2 separate regions of the Homo sapiens genome follow, and region 2 is linked to region 1. Evidence: fine-mapped expression QTL. Tissue or cell type: cerebellar hemisphere. Region 1 holds a variant in brackets; the other region holds the start of a gene. All regions are shown on one strand. Distances are from middle to middle.

What was found. PIP is the estimated chance that this variant, and not a neighbour inherited with it, causes the effect.
Region 2: it holds the start of SVEP1, and the variant in region 1 is fine-mapped to the expression of SVEP1 in cerebellar hemisphere (GTEx, PIP 0.98).

The regions. Positions count from the first base shown.
Region 1 is chr9:110,503,863-110,509,014 of GRCh38, forward strand. All of the region lies in intron 5 of SVEP1 (sushi, von Willebrand factor type A, EGF and pentraxin domain containing 1), which reads right to left. Among named protein-coding and RNA genes, the nearest start is that of SVEP1, 73 kb to the right of the region's middle. The variant G/T (reference allele first, on the strand shown) is at 1,989.
Region 2 is chr9:110,577,696-110,582,847 of GRCh38, forward strand. It overlaps SVEP1 (sushi, von Willebrand factor type A, EGF and pentraxin domain containing 1), which reads right to left and starts at 2,046. Exons shown (of 48, transcript NM_153366.4): 1 at 1,318-2,046. The coding sequence starts at 1,848. RefSeq lists enhancers at 913-1,413, 1,414-1,914.

The DNA.
Region 1 (5,152 bases):
GGCTTATAGTTGCCCACCCAATAGCCATTCTCACCAGTTTTATTAAGCATAGTAATATGCCCAGCTAAAAGATTACAACTCTCCACCTCTACCTCAACTAATGAGAGCCCATAATATATAGCTGAGATTGAGCAGGACTTCTGGAAAGCTTTTTATTTTTTTATTTTATTTTATTTTATTTTATTTTATTTTGTTTTGTTTTTTGTTTTTGAGATGGAGTCTCACTCTGCTGCCCAGGCTGAAGTGCAGTGGCGTGATCTCAGCTTACTGCAAGCTCCACCTCCTGGGTTCACGCCATTCTCCTGCCTCAGCCTCCCGAGTAGCTGGGACTACAGGCGCCCTCTACCACGCCCGGCTATTTTTTTTTTTGAATTTTTTTATTAGAGATGGGGTTTAATTGTGTTAGCCAGGATGGTCTTGATCTCCTGACCTTGTGATCCGCCAGCCTCGGCCTCCCAAAGTGCTGGGATTACAGGCGTGAGCCACCGCACCCGCCCTTGGAAAGCTTTTTAAAGGGGGCTGTCTCAATTGAGAGAGTACTTCTTTCCCTTCCCTGCTTCCTTCTCCTTTTCTTCCACAATACAGACATGAGGAATGGTAGCCCAGCATACTAGAGTATAAGTATATGATACTGTGGGAACATATCATGCACCATGATGGTATAGCAAAAAACATAGGAAGTCTGGCTCTCTGATGACAGTGGAGCTATTACACCAACTTTGGATTACCTACTTCTGTCCTTGTTTTAGTTAAAAGAAAAATGAAGCCTTAATTGGCTTAACACATTGTTATTTGGGTCCCTGATACCAGCTATACACAATTTCTAATTCCTTCTGCCCAGCATTTGGGTCCTTGATACCAGCTATACACAATTTCTAATTCCTTCTGCCCAGCATTTGGGTCCTTGATACCAGCTATACACAATTTCTAATTCCATCTGCCCAGCATCCATTAACTCTTCCTTTGTTAATTTTTTAGGGAAAGATCTTCCCCCTTTCTTGGATCATGGGATGTGTGTGTGCTCCAAACGTGCTCGGGGTAGAGCATGTTATCTAGGAGCACATTTCCCCGGCCAGAGAAGTGAGCAGGCACAACTTGTGACATGGTTTTCTTCATCTTCTTTGAATTCACCATGAGAAAGCAGTAGGAAGGATATTCACTAAACTGCGGATGCTGAAAACGCCCCCGTACCTCAGCCAGCCTCAACATCACCATCAGAAAAAGTGCCACGAGTTATCCAGAGAAACCTGCATTTCCGCGGTTCTGCCACCTTTGAGTCTCTGTCCTCAACATTACATCAGAGAAGCTACCAGAGAGCACTCACACTGTTCCAGCCTCTGCAGGTTCCCCAACGATGTCTGTGTTCTGAGTTTTCCTGGTAAGAGTCTCCAACTGCCCACTCAAACCCAACAATGTATGTTAGAGTCCATTTCCATTGATTTCATCATGCCCTCTATTCCTGTTGATGGCAATCACTTAGAAAGTCCAAGGCTCTATAGTTATCCCTCATCCACCAGGGTTATCCACATGTAGCTGTGTTCCAAATCTATCCCCATAGACCCTTGGACCTGCCCCCTAGAATAACGATGGTTTCAGTTAATCCCCTCATATCCTAAACTTCCTTTTGAGCAACTTTTCCTTCACTTGATTGCCCTAATAAAAATTATATTGTCTTCTGTAACAGGGACTGGAGGTGAGGAGGTGTCTCTGTTGCTCCTGATTGTCTTCCCAGATCATTCTCTCTCCTTCCTTCCTAAAAACTTCCAGCTCCTTTGAAGTATCATATTATATATCCAATAACCTTTTTTAAATTCTCTCTCTCTCTCCTTTCTCTTTTTTCTCTCTCTCTTTCTCTCACACACACATATACCCACACCTTAGTGACTTCCTTATCTATGTAAATGATCATTCCAGTATCCTGGAGTTATATTCCTGATCTCTTATTTTCTTTTCTCTCTTTTTTTTTTTATTATACTTTTAAGTTCTGG[G/T]GTACAGGTGCAGAACATGCAGGTGTGTTACATAGGTATACACATGTTATGGTGGTTTGCTGTACCCATCAACCTGTCATCTACATTAAGTATTTCTCCTAATGTTATCCCTCCCCTAGTCCCCAACCCTCTGACAGGCTCCAGTGTGTGATGTTCCCCTCCCTGTGTCCATATATTCTCATTGTTTAACTCCCTCTTATGAGTGAGAACATGCAGTGTTTGGTTTTCTGTTCTTGTGTTAGTTTGCTGAGAATGATGGTTTCCAGCTTCATCCATGTCCCTGCAAAGGACATGAACTCATCCTTTTCTATGGCTGCATAGTATTTCATGGTGCATATGTGCCACAATTTCTGTATCCAGTCTATCATTAATGGGCATTTGGGTTGGTTCCAAGTCTTTGCTATCGTGAACCCTAGAAGAAAACCTAGGCAGTACCACTCAGGACATAGGCATGGGCAAAGACCTCATGACTAAAACACCAAAAGCAATGGCAACAAAAGCCAAAATTGACAAATGGGACCTAATTAAACTAAAGAGCTTCTGCACAGCAAAAGAAACTTTCATCAGAGTAAACAGGCAACCTACAGAATGATCTCTTCTTTTCTAATGATCATATCCTTCACCTTATCTCAGCTTCTACCATTGCCATGCCCTCTAGACCTCGCTGTCACCAATCCAAGTTTCCTAGTCTCTGACAATCACCTCTTACCTTCTGGGATCACTCCTTCAAGTGCTTCAATCCATCAGTTCCCACACCCTCCAGGAGCCTCTGATCTATCATCTTCCGTAGTCTCCTCTTTAGAGAAAACCCTCTTGAAAGAGTTTATAATCTTGTCCTACACTTCTTGTCCTCTAGTTCTAACTTAGACTCTCTCCAATCAGGGTTTCCAAGCAGGGGAAGGAGGGAGGAGCGTAAAGGAGAAAGGAAAAGTCGTGAAGAAGGGAGGGGAGAAGAAAGGAAAGAGAAAGGGAGGGGAAACATAGGTGGAGGAGATGAAGAGGAGAGGAGAGGAGAAGAGGAAGAGCAGGGTGAGGGGAAGGGGAAGTCAGAGCAGGAAAGGAGTAGGGGTAGGGGAAAGAATAAATAGGGAAAAGAAAGAGGAAGATGGGGAAGCTGTCAAGACCCATGGAAAATGCACTCTCAGTCAGAAGGCATGCACATTCCATTCACGAACAGAGATTGGAGAGGAAAAAAGAGTCGGTGCCTGTTAAATATGCCAAATGATGGGGACGTATATTCATCTTGATAGATTATAGATAGAACCTACAAGCATTGGACATCGTACAAAAGACAGAAATAACCCCTACAAAAGAATAAAGTTCAGTTTCCTCTCAGAGAGCTCTTATAACAATCTCTAAAGATTTTTGAACAAAACATTTGGGACTCAAGAATTTTGTTGAGACTCCGGGTGGGATATATTTTTTCTTCTTCTACTTTTCTGCATTTGCCAATTGTTCATACCATGCATACATTTAGTTACGTCAAAGACAACCTTAAAATACCAGGAAAGGAAGCTGGGGGCAAAATGTTCAAGTGCATATTCAATTGAAGTCACTGTTTGAATTTATTCTACAATGAACCCATTCAAATTATATTAATCAGCAGAGCATAAGTATTGTGTGCATTAAATAAAAGTTTAGGATCCATTACTCCTTAGAGAAAATGCAAGAGTTAGATTAGAGATTAGATCATAAACCCTAGCCTCTTTTATCCCTGGAATGGCTTGGACCAAAGTCAAGTATTAATAAAAAATGATCCGAAACATTTTGCCTTCCGTGTTTTAATTTTTCCTGAATGTGCCCATTTATGCAAATAGAATCTTTATTGTGTCTATCAAGTGCATGAAACATCTTGTCTTCTGCATTTTGACTTTTATTGAGTGTGTCCTTCATGTGTATCCCAAGGCAAAGTATGAGGTGGGATTAAAAGGTGAATCAGATAAATTCTGATGTATAAAATTTGGAAAACCATATTAAACAATGTTTTGGCTTCAACAAACTGCCAAGATGACTCCAGCTTTCCTAACCTGAGACAAAATGGATTTATTACTGATAATAAATTAGAGTCGGTGCCTCATATAGATGCAAATTATACTGCTTCTCAGATGTTGGTATTAATAAACTTCCATTGCTCCCCACTGAAAACAAAACATATGCAATAATTCCTATTTATTCCTTAAACATTTCACTCAAGAATGAACACTTAATACCATTTTAATAGGTACACACTTCTTAAAGAATTTTCAACTTATATTTTTTTCATTTCAACATGCCGAAAAATCCTGCAATTAATATTTCTTGACTTACATTTATGTTATCACAATTCCTAAATATTTATTTGGTCTTTTTAGAAAATAGCAACTTAGACTTTTAAGAGAAAAGTCTACTTGTAGTAGACAATATAAGAAGCTACTCTGGTTCCCATCTTAAAGACTAATCAGATTTTTTTTTTTCCAGGCACGTGCTTCCTATTAGTCTCCAAATTGTGATATCTATTACTGAAAATAAAATAAATCTGATGTTAAATGTAAGGTTCTCATTGGTTGAACCTTTTTACTCAGGTTTAGTTAGTTAAGATTGAGAAACCACAAAAGAATCCTTTCCTGTTTAGAAAGAAATGCAGAATTCTGGCCGGGTGCGGTGGCTCACGCCTGTAATCCCGGCACTTTGGGAGGCTGAGGCGGGTGGATCATGAGGTCAGGAGATTGAGACCATCCTGGCGAACATGGTGAAACCCCGTCTCTACTAAAAATACAAAAAATTAGCCGGGCATGGTGGCGGGTGCCTGTAGTCCCAGCTACTCGGGAGGCTGAGGCAGGAGAATGGCGTGAACCCAGGAGACGGAGCTTGCAGTGAGCCGAGATCGTGCCACTGCACTCCAGCCTAGGTAACAGAGCGAGACTCCATCTCAAAAAAAAAAAAAAAAAAAAAAAGAAAGAAAGAAATGCAGAATTCAGATAAAACTGAAAATGAGTATAAGTGCTTTATGAAAAGTGCATAGGAGAAGTGAGAATCAAGTTTACCAATTATTAGTCAACATCCACAAAAACATTAACAATGTAACATGATATTTGTAAAAGGCTTTAGATTTTATGCAGGTCTTTCATTTCTGCCTCAATCTTACACATATTTTTGAGAAAGTATAATATAACTAAAATTATTCA
Region 2 (5,152 bases), 74 kb after region 1:
AAAGAATTACTGGCCTCACTATATAAAGAACTTTTGCAAATCATTAAGAAAAAAAAACAAGCCAATGTGTTAAGAAAAAACAAACAAGCACTATAATGGCAAAATGGGCAAAAACTATAAATATCAGAGGAAAAAATACAAATGTCCAGTAGATGTACTGGAAAATGTTCATCCTCAAAAATCAAAAATGTGTATTTGCTAAAATGATGCCTCCATCACCTCTTAAATTGACAAAGATATTAAAAAGAATAGTATGATATTGGTGAATATGTGGCAAATTTACTGCTGAGATACTCTGCTGATGAGAATATAAATTTATACAACCCTCCAAGGGAGAAATGGACAATAGTATCAAGAAGTTACAAATGTTCATAACCTTTAGTTCAGGAACTTTTATAGAAATTCTTCCTAAAGATGTAAACAGAGGAGTCCACAAATATTTATGTTCACGATAACTTAGTAAGGAAAAATCCTAAGTGTCCAACAATAAGTGATTGTTGCACGCAATGGAATAGTATGCAGCTAATGTAGAACATTTTAATTAGGATATAACAAACGAAAAATGTAGGCTACAAAACAGCAAGATATTAAAAGTATGAATGGATGTACATACTGGGCAACTGTTCAACAACCTGCAAACAGTGGCTTTTTTAAAGTGATGAAATTTTAGGGTTTTTTTTTCCTCTCCCTACTTTTTGTTTAATTCAGTCCACAAACACTGGCTTGCTATTATGTGTTAGATATTTCTATATGTTTCTTTTTCCCCCACTGAATATGGATTAATTTGTAATCAGAAAAACAGACACACTTTACAAAAGTCCGACATCCCAAACTGACTTCCTCTTCCAGATATTAAAAATCTAATAAAGGATTGGAGCAAAAATAGGAAGGGCACGAATCTTACATTGAAAGCATAACATAACTTTAAAAAGAATTGGGGTTAGGTTTATATCACTCCATGTCCTACCTTTAGAAACACTTTGTAAACCATGCTCACCTGTTTCAGCTTGGATACCGTCTGCTCCTACAAACGTGAATGTGATTAGCGTTTCAAGGATCCCTTCCTAACAGGGTCCTCGAAGCCGACTATCTAAGGAGCCTGACATCCCTCTAAGCGTTTTAAAATCCATTATCCCATTGGAACCTCCACAACAATAATAGGCGGGTAGCGATGACTCTGGTTTTGTGGATGGGGACGCTTGACTTGGGGTGGTTATGCCTTGCCCAGGACTGAACCCCGGGATAGAGACGGGCAGGCAGCGGTGGGTCGAAGGGCCCGGGGACTAGGGCCCGGGTCGGGAGGGGCGGGCGCCTTACCGCGGCTTGCTGGAAGGCGCCCTTGGTGTAGGTGCCGCCACCTCGGTAGGAGATGGCAGGGATCTCTTGGAGGAGCAGCGCGCACTTGTGCTGGCGCGCGCGGCGGGTGGAGATGTAATCGACGCGCGGCACCACGTAGTTCTTGGACGAGAAGGTCACGATGGCCACGCGCGTGGCCGTGGGCACCACGGGGAAGTCGGACAGCAGCTTGCGGACGAACATGAGCTCGCTGCGGAAGTTGACTTCGCCCACGCTGGACGAATCATCCACCAGGAAGACAAGCTCCAGGCGCTCGCTGAGCTCCCGCAGCAGCCGCACGCGTCGCCGGAACGCCTGGCCCAGCCGCTCCACTCTGCTCCCCGCCGCTTCGTCGCCAGGAGCGGGCGGCGCGGGGATACTCCCGGGGGCCCCGGGCGCGGTCTCGGGGAAGAGGCGGAAGCTGAAATTGCGCGACGGGGACATCTGCTGAAAGGTCGCCCAGCCCGAAACGAGCGCCAGACCCCAGCAACAAAAGGCCAGGCGAGGCCACATCGCGCTGGAGACAGAGCGGCTGCCCCGGAGCGCAGGCGGCGGCTCGGGCGGGAAGAGGCGCTGGGCGGCCGGACTCGCAGAGGGGCGTGCGCGGAGCTGGGCGCGGGGCAGCGGCCAAGAGCCTCAGCGCCCTTTCATCTGACACTGGGGACAGACACAATCCAGACTCCTCAGCAGCTCGGGAACTCCGGAGGGAACGGCGCGCGCTCTCTACCCCTCTCGCTCTCCTCTTTTTTTCTTCCCTCTCTCCTCCTCCTCTCTCTCCCTGAAGCCTATAAAATGTTTGAAGGAAAGGGGGCAGTCAAGAAAAATCTCCCGCTTCCCTCCTTCTCTCCCTCTCTCCCTCTCCCCGCTCCTGTCTACTTTCTGTATCTGTGACTCTATCTCCCTCCTCCCCCTCTCATTCTCCTCCCGGGATCAAGCCAAAGGCTCGGAGATTCCATGACACCAGAACCCCGCGTCTGTCAGGCTGTCAACATTCCCGCAGCAAGCGCACCAGCGCCGAAGCCCTGATTGATCCCATATGTCTGGCAGGAGCTGCAGAGGAATTCACTGGAGATGGATCCAGATACCGAGAGTGCCACAGTAATTGGAAACACTTTGTAGACGAAAACATACACGCGGACTGGCCAGGGAGTTGAAAGCATCCTTTGAAAACTGCTTGCTCACCTTTTGTGTTTCTTTTCCCCCATTCAGTGTCCCAAAGCCCTCGCCAAATAGATGATTGTACAATTTTCCTGATGGGGATTTCTAATCAGTGGTGTGTGTGAGCGTGCAGATTAAGCCCTTAAGGGCCCCCTCAGATCACACCATAAAGGAGTTGCATCTAACCTTATGCGTTCCACAGGAATGATTTGTCATGGTACTTCAGTCGTGCATTTATTCATTCATCTGTTTGTTCATTCTTTCCTGATTTTAACAAATATTTTTTGAATACCCATTGTGTGCCAGGAACTATGTGAGGCACTGCAAATATAAGGAACAAAAATTGACAGGGATTCTATCCTCAATGAACTTAAAGGGTAACAAGTGAGGTGACCATTAACCAGATATTAACATACAAAATATATGTAATTACAAGTGACCATGCTAAATAAAGGAGAGCTTAGGTAGACAGACTTGACCTTGGAGAGGCCAGAGAAGCCTTCTCTGAGGACAGAAAGTTTGTGCTGAAGTCTGAAGTGTAAGTAGGGGGTCCCCAGTCCCCTTTCATGTGTTCTTGATCTATTTCAACAGATAAGATCCACCTGGCTTTAAGTGGTACCTGGCATATATCTGCTTTGAAACAAGTTGCTACCTGGGGTGGTTTTTCCAAAGCAAGACCTCCAAAGGGGAGAGCGCACGTGTAAAGAAAAGGTGCACTTTGCATGAGGGTGGGGCCTTTGGTTAAAAGATTCCAGCTGGGAGTCAGGAACACCGTGTAGGTAAGCCTACGGTTATGTAAACCACCTGAACTGAGTCACTTCCAATCCTTGGCTCAGCATCAGTATCTATTTCATGATGGAATTCAGTGATCTCAGTTTCCTCTGTTTCTAATAGTGAATGATTTAACTCCGTCTGTATTTAACAAAATACTTTCAGTGACAAGTATCACAATGTATTGTGTAACATGTTAGGGCTCTGGCATCAGTTTTCCTGGACGAAATCATGACTCTGCCATTTATTAGTTGTACAGCCTTGACTCAGTTTGTTCATTTGTAAAATGGAGTAATAACGATAACATATTAAGGGCTGTCATAAGGATTAAGTCATAAAAAAGTAAAATTCTTAGGACAATGCTTGGAGCATAGCGTGTACTCAATAAATGCTGGCTGGTTGCTCTTATTGCCACCTTTAATCATGAATGTTCTTCAAATTATTTTCCTAACAATACTTATTGACCACCTGCTATGTGCTGGCATGTTAGATACGGAGGATTTAAAGGTGAATAAGACTGAGTTCCAGTCCTCCAGAAGTTCAAAGAACATTAGAAAAGAACATAGATTTGCAAACAATTACAAAGCAGTAGGGTGACTGCAAAAGCAGAGAAGAAAGAGCAAGGAGGAGAAAGATCTCGTTCTTCCTGGGGAATGAGTAAGACTTCATTTGAGCTGGGACTTTTTTAAAAAAAAAAAAGTTTTTCCAAATATCATCTACTCTGTGTTATTTAAAACACATCATGAAGCCCTTTATGTGCAAAGCACCGTGGCATCTGCAATGTGTGCCATCTCCTGTGTTCCCCACACAAACCAAGGAGGTACTCAATTGCTTTAGAACTCTTGCTGCAAGTAAGTGGCACCTAATGTCTCCTCATTTAAACAAAAAGGGATTTTTTGGTTAGTATAACTAAACTAGGGAAAGGGCAGAGGGTACAGCTGGTCTCAAAAAGGCTTGGAAAAGGAAATTAAAAACTACTTAGGTCTTTAATTTTTCTCTCAGTTTGGCTTCTTTTTGGATGCCACATTTAGTCTCTTCTTCGGATTTATAACCTGAGAAAGACTTTTACCCCACCAACTCAAGTTAATAATATTTTGAGATGTCTGCCATAGGCCTAGACACATTCAAAGCTCTCTGGATAATTCTAACACATGCCCCAAGGGTGAACGCCTAAGAACAGCACTCTGGCATTGTGTACCTCCAACGGGATGAACAGTCAGGCCTATGTTACTTGTCCTCATGGTAAGAGAGTGGGGACACATCAGTCAGAGAAGTCCTGCCTGAGTGTTATTAAGACTGCTGCTCCAAGTCTTGCCACCGCTCCCCAGAGCCCTGTAGTCCCTTCTGCTCTCTAATCTAAAGCAGTGGTTCCCAGCGGGAGAGATTTGCATGTCTCACTCCCAGGAACCTTAGGCAATGTCTGGAGACATTTGGGGGATGGGGCAGTGCTACTGGCATCTAGTGTATAGGAGTAAGGGGTGCAACAAAACCTCCTACAATGCACTGGCAGCCACCACAACAAAGAATCATCTAGCCCCAAATGACAATAGTGGTGAGGTTGAGAAACTCTGGCCTATACCACAGTAATAGATGCAGAAGATGACAAAAACTTGTTAGACTAAACATTAAGATTAGAAAGGCTGGGCACAGTGGCTCATGCCTGTAATCCCAACACTTCAGGAGGCCGAGGCGGGTGGATCATTTGAGGTCAGCAGTTCGACACCAGCCTGACCAACGTGGTGAACCCCTGTCTCTACTAAAAATACAAAAAAAAAAAAAAAAAAAAATAGCTGGGCATGGTGACACATGCCTGAAGTCCCAGCTAGTCGGGAGGCTGAGGCAGGATGATCCATTGAACTGAGGGGGCAGAGGTTGCAGTGAGCCTAGA